2 separate regions of the Homo sapiens genome follow, and region 2 is linked to region 1. Evidence: fine-mapped expression QTL. A gene starts in region 1. The other region holds a variant in brackets. All regions are shown on one strand. Distances are from middle to middle. Region 1 holds the start of SCTR (secretin receptor). Region 2 holds the start of TMEM37 (transmembrane protein 37).

The links. PIP is the estimated chance that this variant, and not a neighbour inherited with it, causes the effect.
Region 2: its variant is fine-mapped to the expression of SCTR in breast (GTEx, PIP 0.93). The same link has a PIP of 0.9 or more in subcutaneous fat.

The regions. Positions count from the first base shown.
Region 1 is chr2:119,515,633-119,527,672 of GRCh38, forward strand. It overlaps SCTR (secretin receptor), which reads right to left and starts at 8,851. Exons shown (of 13, transcript NM_002980.3): 1 at 8,523-8,851. The coding sequence starts at 8,594.
Region 2 is chr2:119,431,493-119,443,532 of GRCh38, forward strand. TMEM37 (transmembrane protein 37) reads left to right here and starts at 362. Exons shown (of 2, transcript NM_183240.3): 1 at 362-432; 2 at 5,397-7,012. The coding sequence starts at 412. The coding sequence ends at 5,948. SCTR (secretin receptor) reads right to left here. Exons shown (of 13, transcript NM_002980.3): 12 at 10,066-10,107; 13 at 8,351-8,765. The coding sequence ends at 8,625. RefSeq lists a silencer at 134-513 and an enhancer at 797-1,303. The variant A/AGTGTGC (reference allele first, on the strand shown) is at 5,583.

The sequences.
Region 1 (12,040 bases):
GAATCCCAGGTTCTACAGCCTTGGATTTTAGAACTTGCACAAGTGGTCCCCCCATGGTTCCCAGGACTCTAGCTTCTGACTGAGTTCCACCATCATCTTCCCTGATTCTGAGGCGGTCAGACTCAGAACCACGTTGGCCTGAGCCATGTTGCTGGCAAGATGGAAAGGAAGGAGGTGCCCAGCACTGCATGCCTCTAAGATGTGTTGGGTATTTCCTAGTGTCTCAGTGTAACTATTCATAGTATCTCTTCTCTCTCAAAAACTGCATGGATGACCCTTGGTAGGATCCGGACTGGAAAGTATCTAGTGCATACAAATGGCCAACAGGTAAATGAAAAGCTGCTCAACATCACCAATCATGAAGGAAATGCAAATCAAAGCCGCAATGAGCCATCATCTCACACCTGTTAGGGGGGCTAATGTGGGGTGAGAACAAGTGCTAACAATGATGTGGAGAAAAGGAGACTCTTACATACTATTGGAAGAAATGTAAACTGGCTTAGCCATTATGAAAGACAGCATGGAGCTTCCTCAAAAAAATTCAAAATAGAACTAACATATGATTCAGGAATCACACTTCTGGTCATAAACCCAAAGGAAATGAAATCAGCACCTCGTAGAGGTACCTGTGCCCCCATGCTCACTGAAGCACTATTCACCATTGCCAAGATGTGGGAGCAACTTACGTGTCTCTCAACAGATGAATGGATGAAGAAACATGCTGCATATATACAATGGAATGCCAGTCAGCTTTAAAAAAGGAGATCCTATCATTAGTGACAACATGAATAAACTTGAAAGACATGGTGCTAAGTGAAATAAGCTGGTCACAGAAAGAAAAATACTGCATGATCTTACTTATATGTGGAATATTACAAAGTTGAATACAAAGCAGCAGGGAGTTGAATGGTGGTTGCCAGGGCCTGGGAGGGGGTGGGAATGGAGAGATATAGGTCAAAGGGTATGAAGTTGCAGTTACACCAGGATGAATAAGTCTAGAGATCTAATGTACAGCATGAAGACTATAGTTAATAATACTGTATCGGGCCGGGTGTGGTGGTTCACGCCTATAATCCCAGCACTTGGGGAGGCTGAGGTGGGCTGATCACCTGAGGTCGGAAGTTCAAGACCAGCCTGGCCAACATGGTGGAACCGCGTCCCCACTAAAAATACACAATTAGCCAGGCATGGTGGCGCATGCCTCTAATCCCAGCTACTCGGGAGGCTGAGGCGGGAGGATCACTTGAACCTCTTGAACCCGGGAGGCAGAGGTTGCAGTGAGCTGAGATCGCACCATTGCACTCTGGGCTGGGCAAAAAGAGCGAAATTCTGTCTCAAAAGTAATAACAATAATAATAACACTGTATCGTACACTGGAATTTTGCCATAAGAGTAGATTTCAGGTGCTCTTACCACACACACACACACATGCACACAAATGGTAACTTTGTGAAGAAACATATGTTAATTTGCTTGACTATAGTAATCACTTCACTGTGTATTTCAAAATATCATGTTGTACACTTTAAGTGCTTTTTTTTTTTTGAGACGGAGTCTCACTCTTTCACCCAGGCTGGAGTGCAGTGGCACAATCATGGCTCACTGCAGCCTCTACTTCCCTGGTTCAAGCATTCCTCCCGCCTCAACCTCCTGGGTAGCTGGGACTACAGGCACACACCACCACACCCAGCTAATTTTTAAAATTTTTTGTAGAGACAAGGTCTCCTATGTTGCCCAGGCTGGTCTTGAACTCCCAGGCTCAAGCCATCCACCTGCCTCAGCCTCCCCAAGTGCTGGGATTACAGGAGTGAGCCACCGTGCTTAGTCTACAATTTTTATTTTTTAAAAAAGATTATAAAAAAGAATCCAGTGAATGTGGCAAATCGAAGGGCACTGGTGAGGCTGGTTTCTGTGGGTGGAGCGTGGGAGCCAGGTTGCAGTGTGAGAGTGAGTGAAGTGGAGGCAATGAAGGTGGACGCGTCTTACAGGAAGCTGGCCACCAGGGGGCAGAGAGCAGAGGGCTATTTACTGCCTGGGCTGGATAGACTTGGGGAAGTTAACCAGCTGATGAGAAAAGTCAGCGGAGAGGAAGAGGGTGAAGGTTGGGTGAGATGGCTGTCATTGTGTTGTCCTGGGAAGGAAGTCGGTAGGGGTAGGAGTAGGGACAGGCTGTTGTCTGGGGAACAGCCTCTCTTCCACTTGGATGCTGTTATGGACTGAATGTGTCTCCACTAAATTCATATGTTGAAGCCCTACCCCCAGGGTGGCTGTATTTGGAGGTAGGGCCCATAAGGAGGTAATTAAGGTTAAACAGCATTGTAGTAATAGGGCCCTGATCCTATAGGATTAGTGTCCTTACAAGAAGAAATACCAGAAAGGTGTTTCCCTCCCCTCCCCTGCATCCACACACTCACTGGAAATGCCACATGAGGACAAAGTGGCCATGTGCAAGCCAGGAAGAGGGTCCCCACCAGAGACCAAACCCTTGGGGATCTTGATCTCACACTTCCAACCTCCAGAACCGCGAGATTAATTTCTTTTGTTTAAGTCCCCAAGTCTGTGGTATTTTGTTATGATAACACAGCTGACTAAGACAGACGGGAAGGAAAGGAACAGAGGGTACAATTTAGACACATCTGTAAGGGCAAGATGTTGGTTAGAAGTTCATCCAGGTAGTCTCAACTCTTGGGAAATGGAAGGTGAGCCCATCTGTTGAACATGAGAGGGAGGCGGGAGGTGAGAAATTTGAAAGACACGTGGCCATCAGGAGCACGCCTAAGAGCCTCAGGTGAGGGAAGTGGGGTGGGGCATGGCAGGATCTGGAGATGACTCTGGGAACCTCAGGAGCCTGCAGCACAATGGGCTAAGACTGCGGGACGTGATGAACCAGGGATGACCCTCCCCAAATGCCATCCTTGGAACAGACGCACAATGTAGAGGCTGGGTGGGCCCCAGGAGTCCATAGGAATGCTGAGCAGCCTTCTGTTTGTAATGTAAGCAAGTAGATAGCATCTGAGTATTGTGGTTTTACCTTGAGCTGCAGGTTGTCCCGAAGCCTGAGTGAAGGTCAGTGGTGAGAACCTACAGCTTGCTAAGAGCAGGGATGCAGAGACCAAGCTGGGGCTCACTGCAAGAGGCTGTTCTGGTGGTGGAGCTCGAATCCCAGATATTAAATCTAGGCTTTCAGCAAGGGGGTGCCAGGAAGAGAGGCTATGTCCTCCCTTGTCATGGTAGGAAATCTGGGGACTTCCCAACCTGGGTGGGGATCATGAGGACAGGGTGAGGTTGGGAAGTTCTGCGGGAACTCCAAAGGGTGACGATGCCAAAGCAGGTGGACTCCCCCTTTTTTTTTGAGACGGAGTTTTGCTCTTGCTGCCCAGACTGGAGTACAATGGCATGATCTCAGCTGACTGCAACCTCCGCCTCCCAAGTTCAAGCGATTCTCCTGCCTCAGCTTCCCGAGTAGCTGAGATTACAGGCCACCACGCCCAGCTAATTTTTTTGTACTTTTAGTAAAGACAGGGTTTCTCCATGTTGGTCGGACTGGTCTCAGACTGGTCTCAAACTCCCGATCTCAGGTGATCCACCCGCCTCGGCCTCCCAAAGTTCTGGGATTACAGGCATGGGCCACCGCGCTCCGCCTAAGTGGACTCCCCTAAACTGTTTGGGAACTGGTATCTCCTCCTGTTGGATTTTGTGACCCCATGCTCATTTCTGGGCCCCTCAATAAATGCTGTGTGTAACTCAGTATTTTTTTATGTTTCACAAATTGATTAGTTTAAATGAAAATTAATGCTATTTTGAAGTTTGGGAGATAATTTTATGACAGCTCCTTGGGCACCAGAAACCCGGAACAGGCCTCTCTTTTGGAGCAGATGCATGTGCTGGTTAAGAAGCTCTGCGGTGGCTCACGCCTGTAATCCCAGCACTTTGGGAGGCCAAGGTGGGTGGATCACGAGGTCAGGAGTTCAAGACAAGCCTGGCCAATGTGGTGAAACCCCATCTCTACTAAAAAATACAAAAATTAGCCAGACATTGTGGTGCATGCCTGTAGTCCCAGCTACTCAGGAGGCTGAGGCAGGAGAATCGCTTGAACCTGGGAGACGGAGGTTGCAGTGAGCCAAGATCTCGCCACTGCACTCCAGCCTAGGTGACAGAGTGAGATGAGACTCTGTCTCAAAAAAAAAAAAAAAAAGAAAAAAAGAAAAGAAAAACAAAGAAAAAAAAAAGAAAAAAAAACAAAAAAGAAGTTCCAGGTTTAAGGTCTCATGTCACCATGTCCAGCTGGGTGGCCTTAAGCAAATGGCTTCACATCTATCCAAGTGTCAGTTTCCTCATCTGCACCATGGGGCTAATAACTGTTGAAGTGAGTGTTAGTGTTAGGAGGGACTCAGCAGAGTGTCTGGTAGAAAATAAGAGTCAATTAAAGGAGCCTTCATCATCCTTCACTTATTAACTTCAGGGATAATAAAAATCTCAAAAGAAATCCACAAATACTTCTTCAGAAAACTAGAAAGTGTTTTTCCAGGTACACAAAAAAAATCCCCAGTGACCCTCTCTGAAAAGTCATCAATAATCAGCTCCCAGGCTGGGCATGGTGGCTCATACCCATAATCCCAACACTTTGGGAGTCTAAGGCAGGAGGATCACTTGAGCCCAGGAGTTCAGGACCAACCTGGGAGACATGGTGAGACCCATCTCTAAAAAAATTAAAAAATTAGATGGGGATGGTGGCAGGTGTCTGTAGTTTCAGCTGCTTGGGAGGCTGAGGTGGGAAGATCACTTGAGCCAGGAAGTTCAAGGCTGCAGTGAGCCATAATCGCACCATTGCACTCCAGCCCGGGCAACAGGGTAATTACCAGCTCTGCAGGCAACGCTTGCAGGCCTTTCTAAGGTTCTGCTCACTGTGCAGCCACAGGGCTTGTCAGCTTCTGGATCCAGATGCATGACCGGACAGGGCAGCGACCACCATGTACTGAAGGCTTCCATGTGCCAGAGCCTGTACTTGGAATTTTTATATTTCTTAGCCATCAACTGAGGAGGGATGGAGATAGGAGGGAAAAAGATGGGAAGGGAGGGTGGAATAGATCAAGGAAACATTCTCCACAGAAGTCCTTTGTCCAGTTTGGAAACTGGTTTTCATCAGGCACACCTGTTTCCATCCTCTGACTCAGATGCCGTATCACCAACCCCACTGCCCCAAACCCAATGTGAAATGAATACCTATTGTTAGCCCTATCTGTGTATCTGTCCTGAAACATGACAACCTTTAAGGCAACGGTTCTCAAGCAGGGGCGATTTTGCCCTTCCTACCCCCAGAAAAAATTTGGCAATGTCTAGAGATACATTTTCTGTTGTCACAGCTTTGGAGTGATCATGGGCTTCTAGAGGGCAGAGGTCCATGATGCTGCTAGACATTGTACAATGCACAGGACAGCTCTCAGAAGAGAGAATTATCTGGCTCCAAATGTCAGTAGTGTGAAGAAACTCTGCTTGAAGGAAAAACCAGCCCCACACACCTCACTTAACTCACTAAGGTTAACAAATTGGCAGTTTGCCAAATGTCATGGATTAAAAAGCCCTACCTTGAGTGACTCTTTCTCTACAGCCTGACACATTTCTGTACAATTTAGCAAGTAAGGAGTGCTTTCAAGAGGTGATTCTTCCTTATTTGTTGCTGCATCAGCATGATTTCATTCAGTCATCCATGCATTCATTCAACAAACACTCACTGAGCTCCTTCTTACACTGTGACAGACTCTAGGGATGAAAGATGAACAAGATGAGTCTCCATGTTCAAGTTCAAAGTGTGCATATTGGGGTTTGGGGGACAGATGTGTTAGTAAATAATTACAGTAATGTTCCAGGTAAAAGTTCTCATGAGATGTATGGGGGTGGGGCCGCAGAGGGGGCTGTGATCAGTATTTCTTATAGGGAGGCCTCAGAAAACTGCCCCATTCGGCCACTTTTTGGGTTTCACTTACAAGGGTCACTTCTGACGCCTCCCTATATGGAGTAGAGGGAGAGCGGTAATAAGCAATTTGGCCTCACTGACCCCCCTCCATTGGGAAGATGCCTATAATCTCCCTCAAGGGGGAGCTTCAAATGAATAAAAAATTATTTGAACACACTTAGATTTCAAAATCAAATGTGTGACCACCCAGAGTCAAACAGAAGGAAAGCAGGGCTCCAGAGGCTGGGAAATATTCCAACCAAAGTAGGTCAGTTCCACTCCTATTTATTACAGGAGTTCTCAGCCAAGAAGTGTGAGATCTAAGGTCTACAGAAGCCGTAAAATAACCCAAGGACCACGACTTATACACAGGAAACCATCTTGTGATTATGTAAGGCAGTAATGCACATTTGAAAATACAAGGGACCGCCGGGCGCGGTGGTTCATGCCTCTAATCGCAGCACTTTGGGAGGCCGAGGCAGGCAGGTCACCTGAGGTCAGGAGTTTCAGACCAGCCTGACCAACATGGAGAAATCCCATCTCTACTAAAAATACAAAAAATTGGCCGAGCATGGTGGCACATGCCTGTAATCCCAGCTACTTGGGAGGCTGAGGCAGGAGAATCCCTTGAACCTGGGAGGCGGAGGTTACAGTAAGCCAAGATCGCGCCACTGCGCTCCAGCCTGGGCAACAAGAGTGAAACTCTGTCTCAAAAGAAAAAAAAAAAAGAAAAAGAAAAAGGAAATACAAGGGGTATAAAAGACAGAGCCCTGGATGGTTGGGAATCAAGAGATCTGGGTGCTAACCTTAGTGGGTTAAGTGGGGTATGTGGGGCGAGTAGAGCTGCTAGTCCCGGCTCTACTACTAACTTGCTGATCTCGGGCAGCTCCCTTCTCTCTGAGAGTCTCAGTGTGCTCATTTTTAAAATGAGGGATTGGGACCATAGCATAATGAAGCATCCTTCCAAGGTACACTGAAGACTTAAACCAAGTGAAGCCTCTCATTTTCCCCTTCCATTTATTCCTGTGATAATCCAGGGATTTCCTTGAGATAAAAATGTAGGCTGAACCTCAGTCCTGCACTCGAGGTACCAGTTACGACAGTCTCAGAGTCACTGCAAATACTTAAGAAGGAGGCTGGGAGGGTCCCAAGGAAGGAGCTATTGCCTCTCCCACCCCCAGCCACGGAATAACACACCTTCTGGCTCTACCTGGCTTTGCACTGTCCCCAGTATCCCAGTTGGCATTTCTCCAAATTGGGAGTCAAAACTCATGAGTGCATGCTGTTGCTCTAGCGTCTTCCAAGGCCAGCACTGCCACTGAAGAGAGGAGGCTCCACGGTGGCAAGGGAGCTCCAAGCAAGCTCCAAATTGCACTCATCCCAACTACTGCTGCTGAAAGTCTTGGGGCTACCAGAAAAATGAGCATCTCCTGAGTGTCAACACTCTGGTCGGCTCCGGGAGCATTGGTTTTCCTTATAATCAAACCAGAGGAGACTAAGGGAAGACAAGGAGGCTGGACACCATGAGACTTGCCCAGGACAGAGATCAGAGACTCAGTTGGGTCCCCAAGCGCGTTCCCTGGGGAGCTTCTTGGAAGAGACGACTTGGGGACCAATTTGGAATGCTAGTGGGAAGGGATGATTCTGGAATCTGGCCCCCACCTCTAACCCCCACTCCCTCCCCATTCCTTCCTTTCTGCTGGTCTGGGTGGGGCCACTCTCTTTATCAGAGATCCCGGAGCTCAGAGAGGCCCGGGACTCCCAGGAATTTCTGTTGGAAAGAAAAACAAACCACCCATCCTGCCGCTATTATTATTATTATTATTATTATTATTATTATTATTATTATTATTATTTTCCTCCTCCAGCCCCTTGCCAGGACCTGGCTTTGGGGAACAGCAGCGCCCTGGAGCCACCAGGCACGCAGACATTAGGGAGCCGCATCCCACACGAGACGGTGTGGGGAGAGCGGCAGGCGGTCCCATCGCAGACCCAGAAGCTCCTGCCAGAGCTCCCTCAGGTTTTCCCATCCGCAGCCCGTGAGTGTGAAAATGTCAAGGTTTGGGGGCAGACTGATACTGATGTGGGTTCCAATCCTCTTTTTCTGACTTGCAGCAAGAATTTTTATTCCCCCTCTCCTCTCCTTTCCTTTCCTTTCTTTGTCTGTAAAGTGACGGTGATAATAGCAGCCTCGAAAGGTGATTACCAGGTTTCAAGGAAAGATTGGAGGCAAAGCGCCCAGGACACAGTAGGCACTGCCACGGGCGGCTCCAGAATTTCCGTGTAGGAGAGTTTCAGAAGCCAGACCAGAGGAAGGGGTCGGTGGTGGGCACAGGGATTCATCTTAGAGCCGCCTTCGTCTGGCGCGCACGATGTTTTTCTTTGGGAAAGGGTCCCTCCGGAGAAGAGCTGGGAGAGATTAATGTTGGGAGGATTGGGAGGGAAGAGTCCCTATTCCTCATGGGAAGATCTGCTAGTCCCTCTCCACCTGCATCCTGCCCGAGGCCGGAGAAAGGGCGAGACTGTCGCTCCCTCGGGTCCCCAGCCTGCAGAAGGGCGCAGTACTCACCGAGTGCGCGGCGCAGGCGAGCAGCACCGGCAGTAGTAGCTGCTGCAGCGGCGGCGACAGGTGGGGACGCATGGTGCCCGCACGTTCCCCGAGGGCGCCCCGACGTCCGCCTGCCCGTGCCCTCTGCCCGCTCGGGAGCTCAGCGCCCCGCGCAGGGTCCCGGGCTCCGGCCGGCCGCTGCGCCCCGAGGAGCCATGGCTGAGCCACCCGACCTGCGGCGGGCCCCGGGACTGCTCCTCCTCGGACCAGGTGGCCGCGCGCGCTAAGCCGCCCGCCCCATTGATCAGGACGCGGCTTTGCCGGCGCGCCTCCTCCACCCGGCAGGGACTGGCGCGGGGTCGGCGCGGAGGCTGGCAGGGGAGGAGGCAGAGGGAGGGCGCGGGGACCCGGAGTCGGCTCCCGCAGGCTGGGCCCAAGCTGGAGGAGGCCAGGAGAGGGCACGCTGGCTTAGCCTTCTACGCGGCAATCCCGCCCAACCCCGGGTCCGGAAAGAGCACTGTCTCTGGAGTCCACGGACAGAAAGCGCAAGCTCGCTGGGGGCCGGTGGGCAACTTAGGTCACCTTTGTAAGCCTCGGCTTTCTCATCCCTAACAACACGTCTGATAATACCCACTCTCGGACTGAAAGTTGTCACACAGTCGAGGCCCATTGCATCTATTCCCCCCGATAGCTACCTTGCACTTTATTTCCGATTTTTTCATTATTGAAGTCATTAGCGCTAATTCCATGAAGTTTCACTCCCATGAACTCCTCCTTTGATGATGACCAAGGAGGATCTGTGGTACACTCAGGCATCTGGGGACCGTCCTGAGGATGAACCCCCTGGGAGGCTATTTAAGCCTCAGGCAGGTAGTCCCAGTAGCCCTCTCCATCGGTGCTGTGTATCCTGGAGGTTTGCTTTTGGCCTCTTAGTACAAGGCGTCTCTTAGTACAAGACGTCCTCTTAGTACAAGGCGTCTCTTTTGGCCTCTTAGTACAGGGCGATGGCCCTTTTTTACTGTTACATAAAAAAGAGAGTCTCACCATGTTGCCCAGGCTGGTCTTGAACTCTTGGGCTCAAGAGATCCTCTCACCTCGGCCTCCCAAAGTGCTGGGATTACAGGCATGAGCCACTGGGCCCAGCACTAGATGGGTCTTGCAAACTCAATTTTCCTTAGTCTGCACTGGTGCCCACTCCCTTCCTTCTTCTCTCTCCTCCTTTCTTGATCTTTCTCCCAGGCACTTTAAGTACATCAGCTCATTTAATTCTCCCTCACACCCCTAGGTGATACGATGTCCATTTGACAGAGGAGGGCATTGGAGGTGGAGGAGGATTCATTACATGTCTGGGTACTGCAACTCAGAGGCTCAGACAGGAAAGCCTGAATCTACCCTTACATGGCTGACCCGACTCTCTGTAACTGGCCCTTACGCAGAAGGCCATGCAGCTGTTAAGGTAACAATGTGTTGTCCTTAGCAGCCTTCCCTACCGGAAGAGACTATTAGTAAATTGAGGCTGGTAAATCCCAGCAGAAATAAAAGGGAGGAAAATCCATTCAGCTCCTAGGTCCAAAACCAATGCTCAGTACACATCAAACCTAAAGTATACATAATCACCAACCCCCTGCTAGAAACTCTTTCTACATAAATACTCACCCAAGGGCCTAATGAAATGTGCAAGGATGTTTGCGGAAGCACTATGACAGTGGCAGGAAACGAGATGATATATGGGGAAAGGGAATCACCCTTATTTCTTTCTTTCTCATGGGCAGCAGTCATTACTATAATGCTCCTGACTTGTTTCTACCCCTTCCCTCTCTCTGTCTGTCTATCCCCCACCTCTCTCTCATGTGCACCCACACGCAAGCATGCATGCAGGCACGTATACACAGGTGAGGCCAGCTTACATGATTGATGCATTTGGAATAAGGAACTGGCATGAGTTCGGTCCCCTCCTCTCTCCTTCCTTTGACAGTGTGCCCCCCTACAGAGAGCCTGTAACTGGATTTCCCTGGGCCAGGCTGTGATTAGTGGTCGAGGCTCTACTGGAACTGGTCCAGTATGAACTGTTGTCTCTCTAATTCTGGGGTTTAGTTAGGAAACCCACTTGCCTACAAGTATAAACCACATTCTGCAATACTGACTTTATAAAGTGATATTTGGCCGCATCTGTCTTGATCTTATTTCTCAATTGGTTCAAGTTTCAGGCTAGAAAGAAAAATGTTATTTCCTAGGCTGCTTGAACCGCAGCACCCTAAATATCCATCGCAAAGTGCCTGAGGTAAGGACTTGCAATTTTTACTATACAGATTTCTGTGTTGTTTGAATGTTTTCTGTAACAACGCTGCGTATGGCTGTTTGGCGTTGAAATAAATAAAAAGAAAACAACACAAAAATGCAATCCGTGCTTTATACCAGAGCTTCGTGATATCTGATGAAAAAACAAAACAACATTAGTTCTGGGCAATTCAATACATTTCTGGCCTGTAGCAAGCCATTCTTGCTTAAATGGGAAGCTCTGCCTCTCAGAGAGTTGAGAAAAGGGATTGAAGTGCTCCCTGAAAGGTCCTTAAAACCTGCCTAAGACAATTTCACAATAGGGGTAGAAGGGAAGAGGTAGGAAAACTAACCATATATTTACCACCTGTCGTGTGCTGGGGAGTCTGTTAGGAAGCTCGGGTGTGTTATCATATCCAGTCCTCCAAGACCATAAAAGAGATGGGAACTTGAGGCTTAGGAAAGATAAGTGCTTGCCTCCATCAGCACAGCTAATAAGGGGAGGAGCCAGGATTTGAATTCAGGACTGAGCCCAAGCCTGTGTCGTGAAGGAAACAAAATATTTCACTCTATTATTTGACATATTTTGAGATGGCTGTTCAGAGGGCCTCCAAACAGAAGTAGCCCTGCAAGGCTGTCTTTTACTGGGGAGATTGCATCTGGAGAGAGAACTCTGCACTGATGCAGCCAGGCTTTCTCTGTGGAACCTCCCATATCCAGATCTAAGAAAGGTTAACTGAGAGTTCAACACCTTAACTGTCTGAAAGACACACACACACACACAATCTGTCCTCTCTTAGGCCTGCTACCTGTGAGGTTTCATCTGCATAACAAGCCCAACTTTACCAGCCAGGCCTCCTCTTCTCCACCACCCCCCAACCTATTTTGCCACACACCATAAGCCCCCATTCTTCCTGTAACTTCAAGATGGAATATGAAAGCGTCCACCCTCTGGCCATTTCTTTGAGTTGTGTTTTGAAAGACTCCTGTGCACATTTTAAAATTTGCATGCCTTTTCGCCTATGAATCTGCCTTTTTTTTTTTCAGTTGATTTTCAGTGGAACTTCAGAGGGCAAAAGGGAAGTTTTTCCTTGGTGCCTAGAGCTCTTTGCATGGTACTGGGATTCCTCTCCAACATGGAGATGGTCTCCTTGTACTTAGGCTTCACAAGCTCTTTTGTGTGCATCTTCTTATTAATTAACAGAGCTCTGTGAGGTAGGTAGGGATGAGCAGGCAGGGGCCTGGCAGAAGAAGGAGAAACT
Region 2 (12,040 bases), 84 kb before region 1:
CTCAGCAAGCTGGAACAGGAATCGAACCCTCAGGCCCTCGTCGCCGTCCCAGCCCTCGAGGAATCTGCGCCCCAGGCGAAGCTGTCCTCGGAGGTTCGGGAGCGTCGGAGTGACTTCCCGATCCTTTCCCCTGGGACCCGAGGGATCCCTCCCCCCAAGTGCCGGGTCCTCCCCGCGGCTCCCCAGGGGCTCCTCCGGCCGCCCTCGCTGACTCAGCGTAATCCGAGCCGCGGAGGGCGGCGGGGTTGGCGGAGCCCGCCCGGGGTTAATCGCCGAGCTTTGAACGCCCCCTCCCGCCCCGCCCGCCTCCAGCAGCCGCCCCGCCCCTGCGGAGAAGTCCCGGGCTGGCGCCGGCGGCCACAGCGGAGCAGCTGGAGCGATCGAGGCTGCAGCGCGGCCGCCGGGCGCAGCATGACTGCCGTCGGCGTGCAGGTAGCCGGCGCCTGGCGGGGCGCTGACCCGGGGTGCTGCCCCGCCGTGGGAGGTTGGGGGTGGGAGGACGGAGGGAGGGGCGTACCCACCGCGAGCGCCGGCGTCGGGCTGGGGGTGCGAGCGCCCCCCGTGCCCGCCCCCTGTTGCAAACCTGGGTCCGGAGGAGGCTGGGCGGGGAGCAACCTCGGGGGGCCTGCCTGCCTCACATAGCTGCTCCCGAGGCGCGGACTCCGGCTGCTTCTGCTCGCGGCCTTGCAAGCACCCGAGGCTCCCAAACTTCATTTGGAAAGATTTTTCTTCTCTTTGGTGTCACCAGTGACTTACTGGTCAGTTTACCATAAGGGTCCCCCTTTGTGAGAAATGAGGCGCGTCTGGGGTGGAGGGACAGAATCGACTTGCAAAGTGAGGCTTATGTAACAGAGGATGCGTCTCTTGGGAAGTTAGACCTTTCTGGGGGTGGAGGTTAGGAAGACCGTCTCCCTCCCCAAAGCTGCGTTTGGGGTGCTGGGCTGGGGGTGGACTTGCTGAGTCGCGCGGACACCTCAGGGAAAGGCTCTGGCGAGGGAAGAAGCCCGTGTCTCCGAAGATTTGGCTTCTCCTTAGCGTAGTGCACGATGTTTATGTTGGCTAAGAACCTACACATTCCTACCCGCTCCCTCGGGCCTGCTGCTCCCCAAAGGGAAGTCAGTGGGTGGCGGTACCGCTGCCCAGCGGGCGAACTTCCTTTCCGCGCAACTCGCCCGCTGCAGAGTCTATCCGCTGGACTGTCTCCAGGATTAGAGAGGCCCGTTGACTTCGTGTACAAACGCTCAGCCACAACACTGACCTAGTAGACACCGTTCTGCCCATTGTATAGATGAGGTAACCGAGACTCAGAAGTAAGGTGCCCTCCGTGGCTGGCCAAGGAACAGAATCAAGATTCAAACCCAGGGCTTTCTGGCTCCAAATCCCACTGGCTCCTCCTGCCTTTACCTAACGGGAGAAACCCCACCCACAGGACACCCCCAAAACCGCTTCTATAGCCAGGACCTAGGCACCTGGGCGAAGCCGGGCATGGGGCGCAGGGAATTCCTCCCCTTTGTTCTGGGGGATGTCTGGAATCCCGGCCAGGCAGCATGGTGGGACAGACCAGGTGCGGTCCCTCCCCTCTAGGAGCTTACAGCCCATGTAGGGAGAGAGACTTGGAAACAGGGCATGGGGGAGCGAATGCTAAATTAAGAGGTGCAAAAGTTGCCAGACGGGGAAGAGGAGGAAGCCTGGTAGCAAGGTGGGAGCTCAGCTGGGGAGGCCACAGGCTCCAGGTGAAGGGCGGGTGCTCCGGCCGCTTCGGGATGATAACTCTTCATCCCCACAACCATGACTTGCCAGGGGGCAAACACAGGTAGGAAGCAAGTTCTGGGTCATGCAGGCAGCGGTGGGCCAGGCTGCAGCTGAGAGGAGCAGAGGCAGGCCGGCTCATCAGGAGGCTGTGAACTTCCAGGATGTTGACGATGGTGATGGCCTCACCTGGGTAGGGGCAGAGTGGGTGATGAGGGGGAGCAAATATGGGAGACATGTTGGGGATGTGCGGAATGAGTTGGGAGGAGCTTAATTTGTCTACCTGGGGGTGCTTTGGTTAAGGGGAACACATGAGGCCCTGGGTTATAGGAGGAAGACCATGACATTGGACTCAGTAGCCCAGTAGTGTCAAGTGACCCTATTCTATAGGTCACTAGAAATCATGCAAGGTTACAGATGAAAAAGGAAAATGCTTACATTTTTAGCAGAGCAGTTAAGCTCCAGAGAGATTTAAGTGATTGCCTAAAGGTACCCTGCAGGGGTCCTCTAGGTCAGGGGCAGGACTTGACCTCCCCGCTCCCTTCTTTTCCACTGCACACTTGTCCAGCTGCCCTCCAGTAGCCGTTTCAGGCCCTGCATCACTGAAAGCTGGTGGAGATGCCGGGTGGTTAGGAATGAAGACTCTATATGTGTTATTATTGTTATTAATATTAATAGCTACCATGAGTTGGGAGCGGCCCGTGTACCATGCATCTTTATATACAGGATCTCATTTGATTCCTGGGAGTTTCAGTGGTGGCCAGAGAGTTTAAATGAAGCCCTACTTTGGGGCAGGAGCGGGAGGAAACTAGATGAGGTCAGCTGTCTCCACTTTCTGATCCTGACGTGACATCTAAGGGCCTGGAGATTAAAGTCCAGTCTGCCTAGGACAGGTAGGGCTGGAGAAGGGACAGGACGTGCCTGTTTTCCAGCCAGCATGCTGTCTCGGGTTAAAAGGTTTCTGGGTCCTGTGATTTGTTCTCTGCCTGTGGTGCTCCTCCTTTTTAGGACCATTTATCATTCTCTAGGGACCTTGTAACCTTGCCAGGTGCCTTCATGGCTACGACTTTCCTGCAAGTGTCATTAACTTCATTTTCTAGATGAGGAAACAAGGGCTCAGGAAGTTAAGAAACTGCCCAAGGACAAACACCTCTAATGGTTTGTGGAGTAGACACAGGTTTTCAAAGTTTCCTTTGGTTTCTTTCTTACCGGTAGATTTTTTTTTTTTTTGTAATAAAATGCAATACAGACTCCTGGACCCCCAATGTCCCAAGCAGGTACAGGGCTCAGTTGAAGTGAGGAAGGGGATGCAGAGCCAGCCTGCTCAGCTTCCCTGCCCACCCGGCTTCAGCACTGGAAGCCCCACCAGGAGCATGGGGACACAGTTTGAGAACCACAGCCCATACTCTTAGCTCCATGTTTTTGACCGCACCCAGGCTGCCTTCATCTCAGCTAGGACCCAGGCTGGTCCTAGCTCTGGCATGGCCCTTGAGGCATCCCTCTGCACGCACCTTTTCCTCACCAAGAGGGCATGGGGCACAGGGAATTCCTCCCCTTTGTTCTGGGACATGTCTGGAATCCTGGCCAGGCAGCGTGCTGGGACAGACCAAGTGCGGTCCCTCCCATCCAGGAGCTTACAGCCCATGTAGGGAGGGCTGTAAGGGCTCAGTACTGAGCCCCTAGCACAAAGGCCCTGTCCTTAGAAGGCCCTAGTCAGTATTTATTCGCTGAACGGATTCCACCTCCTGCATATCATACAATTGTCTGGGCAGCCATAAAGAGCTTCATTGTGCTTTAGGTGAGTGATCTCAGGCAAGTCACCTGCCCTCTGCATAGTTTCCTTCTCTGTACACCCACCATGGAGCTTCCTACTTTATCAACCTCATAGGTTTAAGAATAAAATAGGATCCTACTTAAGGCAGAGGTGCTGAAAGCAAACTGCATCCTTATTCCTGTATCCCTGGGGTTGAAATTAGCGGTAGCTCCTGTGTCTGGGGCATGTGAGCAGATACTCTTGCTGGGCTCTTTGACCACAGGAGTCTCCCAGAAGCAGGGCTTTATTTTATGTCTCACACAGAGAGGAGTGGCCCAGACCTGCCTCAGGAAGCCTCCATTTGCCCATGGCATAGGACACACCCCATGTTCCTCACTGCTCCATTCTCCTGGGTCCTAGCAGTGACCGTCATGCGTGCCTGTTTTGCATACCTCCCAAACCGAGGTGTAACCTGGGCAGCTTCTAGACACACTGCAAAGCAGGTCATTTAATGTATGACTGTGCAGGAGACTCAGTTTAAAGGAGCTTCAGACGGAAGTGACAGTGGTTGCCAATGACCTTTGACTTATCTCACAGCTCTCCCTTGAGCACCCACTGAATGCCCAGGTATTGGGGACACAGCAGTGCCTAAACACAGAATGTGGTGGTGTGGGGGTAGGGGGCGGCCTTCCCAGAGCACACAGTGTTGGAATGAGACAGAAATAATATGTAACTACAAACTGTCCTCAGAATGGTGAAGAATTTGAACAGGTGCCTGACACAGAATACCAGGAGGGGCCTGACTCTGGGTTGAGTGGGCAGGAAAGCACTCTCTGTGGAGGAGACTTTAAGCTGAGACATGAAGAATGGAGAAGAGGTGTTGTCCTGGAGGGGTGGCAGGAGCTGCAGAAGAGCCACTACAGGCTTAAGGGCCAGTCATCTGAGGAAAGAAAGTTCTAGACATGGGGAGAGGGGAGTGTGCTGGGAGCTGAGGTTGGGTGGGGAGGCGGAGCGGATTGTGAGAGGCTTGTGGGCTGTGTAAAGAGTTCCTGAAGTCTTTCTTTTGCTTTCTGGGTCAGGGCTTGGGTGCAGTGCCCGGGTGGTGTCCTTGAACTGTGAGATGAGACACCTCACTGGACACCTAGCCTGGCTTGCCAGGAGACCGGGGTGGGGGCGCCTCCTTCCAGGGCTGAACCGGAAGTGGAGGAGAGCTGCAATGGCCTTCCCATGCCCAGAAGCTGCAGGAGCAGACAATGGGGTTGGCAAGCTCTGGGTAGGGTACAGGCCGCACAGGTCTGAGGGCAAGATGCAAATGTCACTTTCAGTACCAAGAAAAACGAGGCAATAATCTAGAGTCCTGGGCTGAACGTGGACAGCTCCCGAATCATCAGGTGGGTGGGGATTAGGACAAAATCGTGTATCCTGGGGAGATGGAGGGAAACAGAACTGTGTATTGGTGTGCTAATGTCTCAGTGCTTGGTACAACCCTGGCAACTCTGCCAGGCCGTATTCTTGTTTTATGTACAAAGAAACCGAGGCAGGCTGCATGCTCAAGGTCATGGGATGCAGGCACGACAGGTTTTCTGAACTCAGAACTGACTCAGATTTGCCAGTCGGTTTGGACTTCTCACCCACTCTGAAGATCACAAAAGAAAGAAAGGTCAGGAAGCTCTTAGTGCCTGGTGAATACTGGATGGTAAATGCTCACAGGTCTGGAAGGGAGGAAGGGTTCCCCCCAAACGGTGGGTCTGGTCTGTTCCGGGCTTCACAGGAGACCAAGCAGAGAATAAGACAGTGCGGAGCAGGATGGAGGGCTCAGGGGTCTTCCCTGCAGAGGTTCCTGGGGGCGTGGCAGGGCTGTGGCTGACAGGGTGCTTCCTACGGTTTTTTCCAGGCCCAGAGGCCTTTGGGCCAAAGGCAGCCCCGCCGGTCCTTCTTTGAATCCTTCATCCGGACCCTCATCATCACGTGTGTGGCCCTGGCTGTGGTCCTGTCCTCGGTCTCCATTTGTGATGGGCACTGGCTCCTGGCTGAGGACCGCCTCTTCGGGCTCTGGCACTTCTGCACCACCACCAACCAG[A/AGTGTGC]CGATCTGCTTCAGAGACCTGGGCCAGGCCCATGTGCCCGGGCTGGCCGTGGGCATGGGCCTGGTACGCAGCGTGGGCGCCTTGGCCGTGGTGGCCGCCATTTTTGGCCTGGAGTTCCTCATGGTGTCCCAGTTGTGCGAGGACAAACACTCACAGTGCAAGTGGGTCATGGGTTCCATCCTCCTCCTGGTGTCTTTCGTCCTCTCCTCCGGCGGGCTCCTGGGTTTTGTGATCCTCCTCAGGAACCAAGTCACACTCATCGGCTTCACCCTAATGTTTTGGTGCGAATTCACTGCCTCCTTCCTCCTCTTCCTGAACGCCATCAGCGGCCTTCACATCAACAGCATCACCCATCCCTGGGAATGACCGTGGAAATTTTAGGCCCCCTCCAGGGACATCAGATTCCACAAGAAAATATGGTCAAAATGGGACTTTTCCAGCATGTGGCCTCTGGTGGGGCTGGGTTGGACAAGGGCCTTGAAACGGCTGCCTGTTTGCCGATAACTTGTGGGTGGTCAGCCAGAAATGGCCCGGGGGCCTCTGCACCTGGTCTGCAGGGCCAGAGGCCAGGAGGGTGCCTCAGTGCCACCAACTGCACAGGCTTAGCCAGATGTTGATTTTAGAGGAAGAAAAAAACATTTTAAAACTCCTTCTTGAATTTTCTTCCCTGGACTGGAATACAGTTGGAAGCACAGGGGTAACTGGTACCTGAGCTAGCTGCACAGCCAAGGATAGTTCATGCCTGTTTCATTGACACGTGCTGGGATAGGGGCTGCAGAATCCCTGGGGCTCCCAGGGTTGTTAAGAATGGATCATTCTTCCAGCTAAGGGTCCAATCAGTGCCTAGGACTTTCTTCCACCAGCTCAAAGGGCCTTCGTATGTATGTCCCTGGCTTCAGCTTTGGTCATGCCAAAGAGGCAGAGTTCAGGATTCCCTCAGAATGCCCTGCACACAGTAGGTTTCCAAACCATTTGACTCGGTTTGCCTCCCTGCCCGTTGTTTAAACCTTACAAACCCTGGATAACCCCATCTTCTAGCAGCTGGCTGTGCCTCTGGGAGCTCTGCCTATCAGAACCCTACCTTAAGGTGGGTTTCCTTCCGAGAAGAGTTCTTGAGCAAGCTCTCCCAGGAGGGCCCACCTGACTGCTAATACACAGCCCTCCCCAAGGCCCGTGTGTGCATGTGTCTGTCTTTTGTGAGGGTTAGACAGCCTCAGGGCACCATTTTTAATCCCAGAACACATTTCAAAGAGCACGTATCTAGACCTGCTGGACTCTGCAGGGGGTGAGGGGGAACAGCGAGAGCTTGGGTAATGATTAACACCCATGCTGGGGATGCATGGAGGTGAAGGGGGCCAGGAACCAGTGGAGATTTCCATCCTTGCCAGCACGTCTGTACTTCTGTTCATTAAAGTGCTCCCTTTCTAGTCCTTTTTCTGCCCAGAAGTAGGTGATGTTATTGCCCTCAGCCCATTTCATTCTACACTGACTCCTTCCCATTCCCTCACCTGTTGAATTCTGGCTCCCAGCAATTGCATGGGTTTTTGGTCTCTGCCCCGGTCTTGTCACTGCTGCAGGTTCCTTTCCTGGTCTGGGCTGAGTGCCTATACCTACGTCTATTGTGATGTTTTAAATTTTTTATTCCAGGATGCATGGAGTCATGAAGCTGTCTGCTTTGTAGGATATAAGGCCATGGGCTTTAAGGTTGAACCACCAAGGTGCCCAGAGTCCATGGAGATCATCCTGGAAAGGTTTCCATGAATTGCTCAGTTTTACAGAGTACAGAGCTCATCAACCACACTGGCGGCATCTTAGCCTGGGAAATGGGAACCTGGAGCAATCTACAAGTTGCAAAGGGGATGTGTAACCCCCTGGTTTCTTCACGGGGAGGGGATGTATGGAGGTGGGGAGTCAGGGCCCAGAGAGGGATGCACTTGTCCAGGGTCACCCAAAGCTGGGAGTAGAGCTGACCCACCCACCAGCAGGATGCCTTTTCCTTGACACGGAGGGGAGTTTCTCTACTTCCCTCCAGAACGCTACCCCCTGAGCACTAGTAGGTTTGGTTTTGCAGAAGCGTTCAAAAATGGAGTCCTTTTTCATCCTCACATGGGGGCAGGGAGTGCAGATATTCAAAGGAACCAAGAACGAGAGTGGAGGGTGAGACTGAAGTCCCCAGGAGCTTAGAGGGGCAGCAGATGGCCCCTGTCCTTCCCTGCCTGGGAGCAGGGAGAGCACAGACACAGCCTTGGAGCATGGGCATTTGAAGTCAAAGGCCCTGGACTGAACTTCCGCCACCTCTTTGCTTAGTAGCTTGGGCAAGTCACAGGGCTTTGGTGGACCTGTCTTCTCTGAAATGGGATCATGCCCCATTTCCTGCTGTGTCTGCCTCAGGCCGAGGACATCTGTGTGGAAGAGCAGGAAAAATAGGGGTGTCCCCCTCACACCCTGTTGGGGGTAGTAAAAGGGGGGATAGTAAAAGGGACTGGGGGCCCTGGGGCTTCCCTGGCCTCCGTGGTGACTTTATCATATTATTTTAGCTGTTGTCCTGAAGGTTTGGGTGAGAGCTGCTAACCAGGTGAGTTACAGTAGGAGACAGACAGCATCCGCCAAGGGCAAACATTTCATGTTGGCTGGGCCTTCTAATCTGGTCCCTGAGTAACTGAGCTGGGGGACCAGGGAGGAGCCCGCCTCCTGCGGGAAGGCATTGGGAGCAGGCAAGAGCGTACACCCTCACCTTGTGTCAAGGCAAAAGGATGGACAAATATAGATTGAATCTCATCCCAGGCACCATTTATTTCCCTGTCCCTTTCTGGGACCCCTGAACTTCTCTTCCCAGAAGAGCAAACGAACCAAATCCCAGGCCCTTGTCCTGCCCCACAGTGCCTCACATCCCTTCGGAAGAGTCCAAGGCCTGGGGAGGGGCATCTTCAGCTGAAGGAGGACACAGGGTGTCTGCTGGGAAGACTGGCTGTCCCACAGCAGTGCCCAGCCTTCGCAGGACCTCTCTTGGTCTCTGTCCGTGGGTGACCCTGCTCCAGCCTCTCAGATGATGCTGGTCCTGCAGGTGCCCTGGCTCTGCTCCAAGTGGCTGGCCTTGGTGCTGTTGCTGAAGGAGGCCACGGGGTGCAGTGGGAACTCACGGAGGTGCCATTGCTGCCACTTCTTCTGAACCTCCAGCTGCACCTGCCCGGGAGACCAGCCATCAGCCCAGGAGGAGAGGACAGTTCTGTGCCTGGAGCCCTGCTCACTCCCCCAGTGACTCCACGCAGGCCCTGCCACTCCTGCCCAGCTGCCCTGTCCCCTAGCCTGCAGGCCACGCAGATTGACTGTTTCCAGCCCCAATGTCCAGTAGCTACTGAGGGTCCCCTCTCTCCTGGGCACATGCACCTGCAATCTCATTACATCGTGTCTTAAAGAAAGGACTTGTGCACCTTGGGACAAGTGTGTGCCCTTGACATTACAAGAGCAGTGGTGGGGAAAGCTAGCTCCCTGGCCCCCAGGCTGAGAGGAAAAGAATCCCGGATTAAGCCAGAGGCTGAGTTCTCTGAAGGTCTGGGGCACTGACAGGGGCTACTGGGCAGAGGGCCAGCTTAGAGGAGGGTGTGGTCTGAAGGTGTGGGTAGGGCAAGGCCTGACTCCACTCAGTGATGGGTCCCCAGTGATTTTAAGTGATTTAAGATGGGTCCCCACTTATTCCCAGGAAGCCACCCAAGCTCAGAACTGATCTGGGAACTAGGGAGTTTCTCTTTGTAAATTTCCTTCACAATTCCCAGCTGCAGCAGCTGAACCTTTGAAGCTAGGCTTGATATTTGATTTTTGGGAAACATCAAAGATCACTCCCATTCAAGTGCAACAAACCAGATAGATGGTCAGTAGTCACAGAAAGCCTTAGCTCATGTTAACCACATAGCTCTGTATGCCCAGAGCCTGGGGTCCTGACCCAGATGCTCCATGTGAGGCTCGAGTCCTCAAAGTGAGTGTGCAGTCTCCCAAGGAGTCAGTGCTCATCTGGAGGTCCCTAAGGATTGAGCTGCAGACAGTTCTGAGTCACCCGTTTCACATATGGGCAGACTGAGGCCCAGAACAGGGCAGTGACTGAGATCGCCCATTAAGCAAGCAGCAGGGCAGTCAGGAACCTGGGTTCTGCCCAACTTTCCTCCTGCATTTGCTGAACAGATCAACATCGGCACCAGGAATGCTTGTTAAAAAACACTTTCTCAGACCCCAGTCCAGACCTACAGAATTTATTTCTGTGGAATGAGAAACTAGGAACAGGGTCCAGCCATGGTTTGAACAAGCCTTGCTCCCATTAAGCAAATTCAGACTCCTAAAAGAACTGGCCAAGCCACCTGCCACCAGACCCAGGACTCCCTCTGACCCTTTCCATCCCCCTTCCTACCACCCCTCCCAGGTAGCTCCTTCTGACCCGGAAACCAATGGCTAGGAGCTCTCCTGGGTACCTGGGTGACCCAAGACTACTCACCTCCCCATTGAGGAAGCAGTAGAGGACGGCCACCACCAGTCCCTGCCAGAAGAAGAGAGGTAGCAGGGTTAGCACAGGTGCTCAGCATGCGGCCTGAACCAGCTGGCCAGCTGCACCCTCCCCAGGTCTCTTAATCACCAGCTACAGGCTCATTTCCCCACCTCTCTTGCCTCACTGGGAATTAGGCTACCTCTTGTGGGCTGCCCACGGTGGCCCTGGCTGTGCTGGCTCATCCAGCATAAACTGTGAACTCCTTGCAGCCAAGGGTAGGCTCCCTTTTGAACACATATGGTGTCAGGGGGGCTGCTAACCCAGCCAGCCGGGATCAGGAAGCTCACCTGGGAGCCACAGGGATGGGTGGCACCTGAAGTCCGCCCACTCTGCCAGGAGGAGTGCAGGCTGCCCAGGGTGAGACCCTGGGCCCTGTGTGGTCTTATTTCAAGATAAACTGGAAATCTGAATATGTTTAAATGTAGATAACTAATTCAAATTGAAAAACAAATGTGTAGGCAGAACAAACTATGTACAGGTCCCGGCCAGCCAGTGGTGAGCAGGGTTGGAGCTCCCTGCTTAATGGACAGGTGGGTGCACCTCCGTGCTCAGAGTTTTATGTTCCCTGGTGTGGCAAGGTCTGTGCCTGTAAGACCCTCCCTCCCTGGTATTTGGAGCTCCTGATTTCCTGATGGTGCCCCCAGGATCCTGGTGTGGAGCTCTGTCAGGGGAGGGACTCCAGGCTGGGGCGCCTGCTTGGAGCCTAAGAGGCCTCCAGATCAGCAGGAAGCAGTGTCTCTGCGGCGCATTCACCCTGCTCCTCTCCTTTCTCAGGGACCCACCTCAGGCCACCCTTCTCTCCCTTACGGGCCTGCCCTCCCCACACAGAGGCCTGACCTCAGATGGCCCAACTCCTCCTCCCTAGTCCCACCCAGGCCTGCCTGTAGCTACTTATGATATTGGAAAGGAACCTCGAAGGGTGATGAATCAGCTCATCGATGGTGGGCTTAATATGTACAACTTCTCAGGGATATTGGCATTTTAAAAAGAGTTAGTGGCGAAGCTGGAAGGGTTTGCTTTAGAATTTCAGGTATCAATGACTGCTACATAGACTGGGGACTATTTGAGGGGCAGAAACACTCAGGGCATCGGTTTCCAAGTATTGCTGCACATTAGAATCACCTGGGACCTTTTATCCAGGTTGCACTCCCCAGATCCCAGTAGCTGGGGGCATCAGCAGCTTTTAAAGATCCCCACACAGTTCCAAAAAACGGGCATCATGGTCCGGGAACTACTGTCAGAGAGGGAGTAAAAGGCACTTCAAGGCAGGCTTTGAAATGAAACAGACTTGGATCGGAGCACAGCTAGGCCTGAGTAATTGTAGGTCCCAGGTGCTTCATTTAACCTCGCCAAAGCTCTCGGAGGCAGGTGGGAGGATCTTCACCTCACAAGCGAGGGAACTGAGGCACGGAGGGGTTTAGGCATGCCTGGAGCTCTGTGTGCTTGGCCCAGAGCCACGAGCAGGCCAAGGATGCTGCCCGTTGCATGGGCTAGGGTTGCCTGGCCTCCGCTGCGCTAGGGTCCAGGGACACATTTTCACTGTTCAGGGGAGGGAGTTAGCTGTGCTCCAGTGTATATAGGGCAGGCCTCACACAAGCCAGCAAGTTTACTAATTTCCACCGTGATTCTGCGATCATTAAGGATGAAGACTTTGAAGAATTTTAATGACATGAAGAAATGCTCATGATGGGCATGATAGAGAATTAAACAAAACAAGCAAGATACAAAACCATACACATCATGATCCCAATTATGTGTGTGTATCTTTGTGGAAAGAAAAGAGACGGAAGTAAACACACCAACACTTTAACAGAAGTTATTTCTGGGTTATGACGTTCTAGATTTTTTTCTTATTATTTTTCTTTTTTTGAAAAACTTTTCCTTATTTCCCAAATTATTCACAATAAGCAAGCATTATTTATAC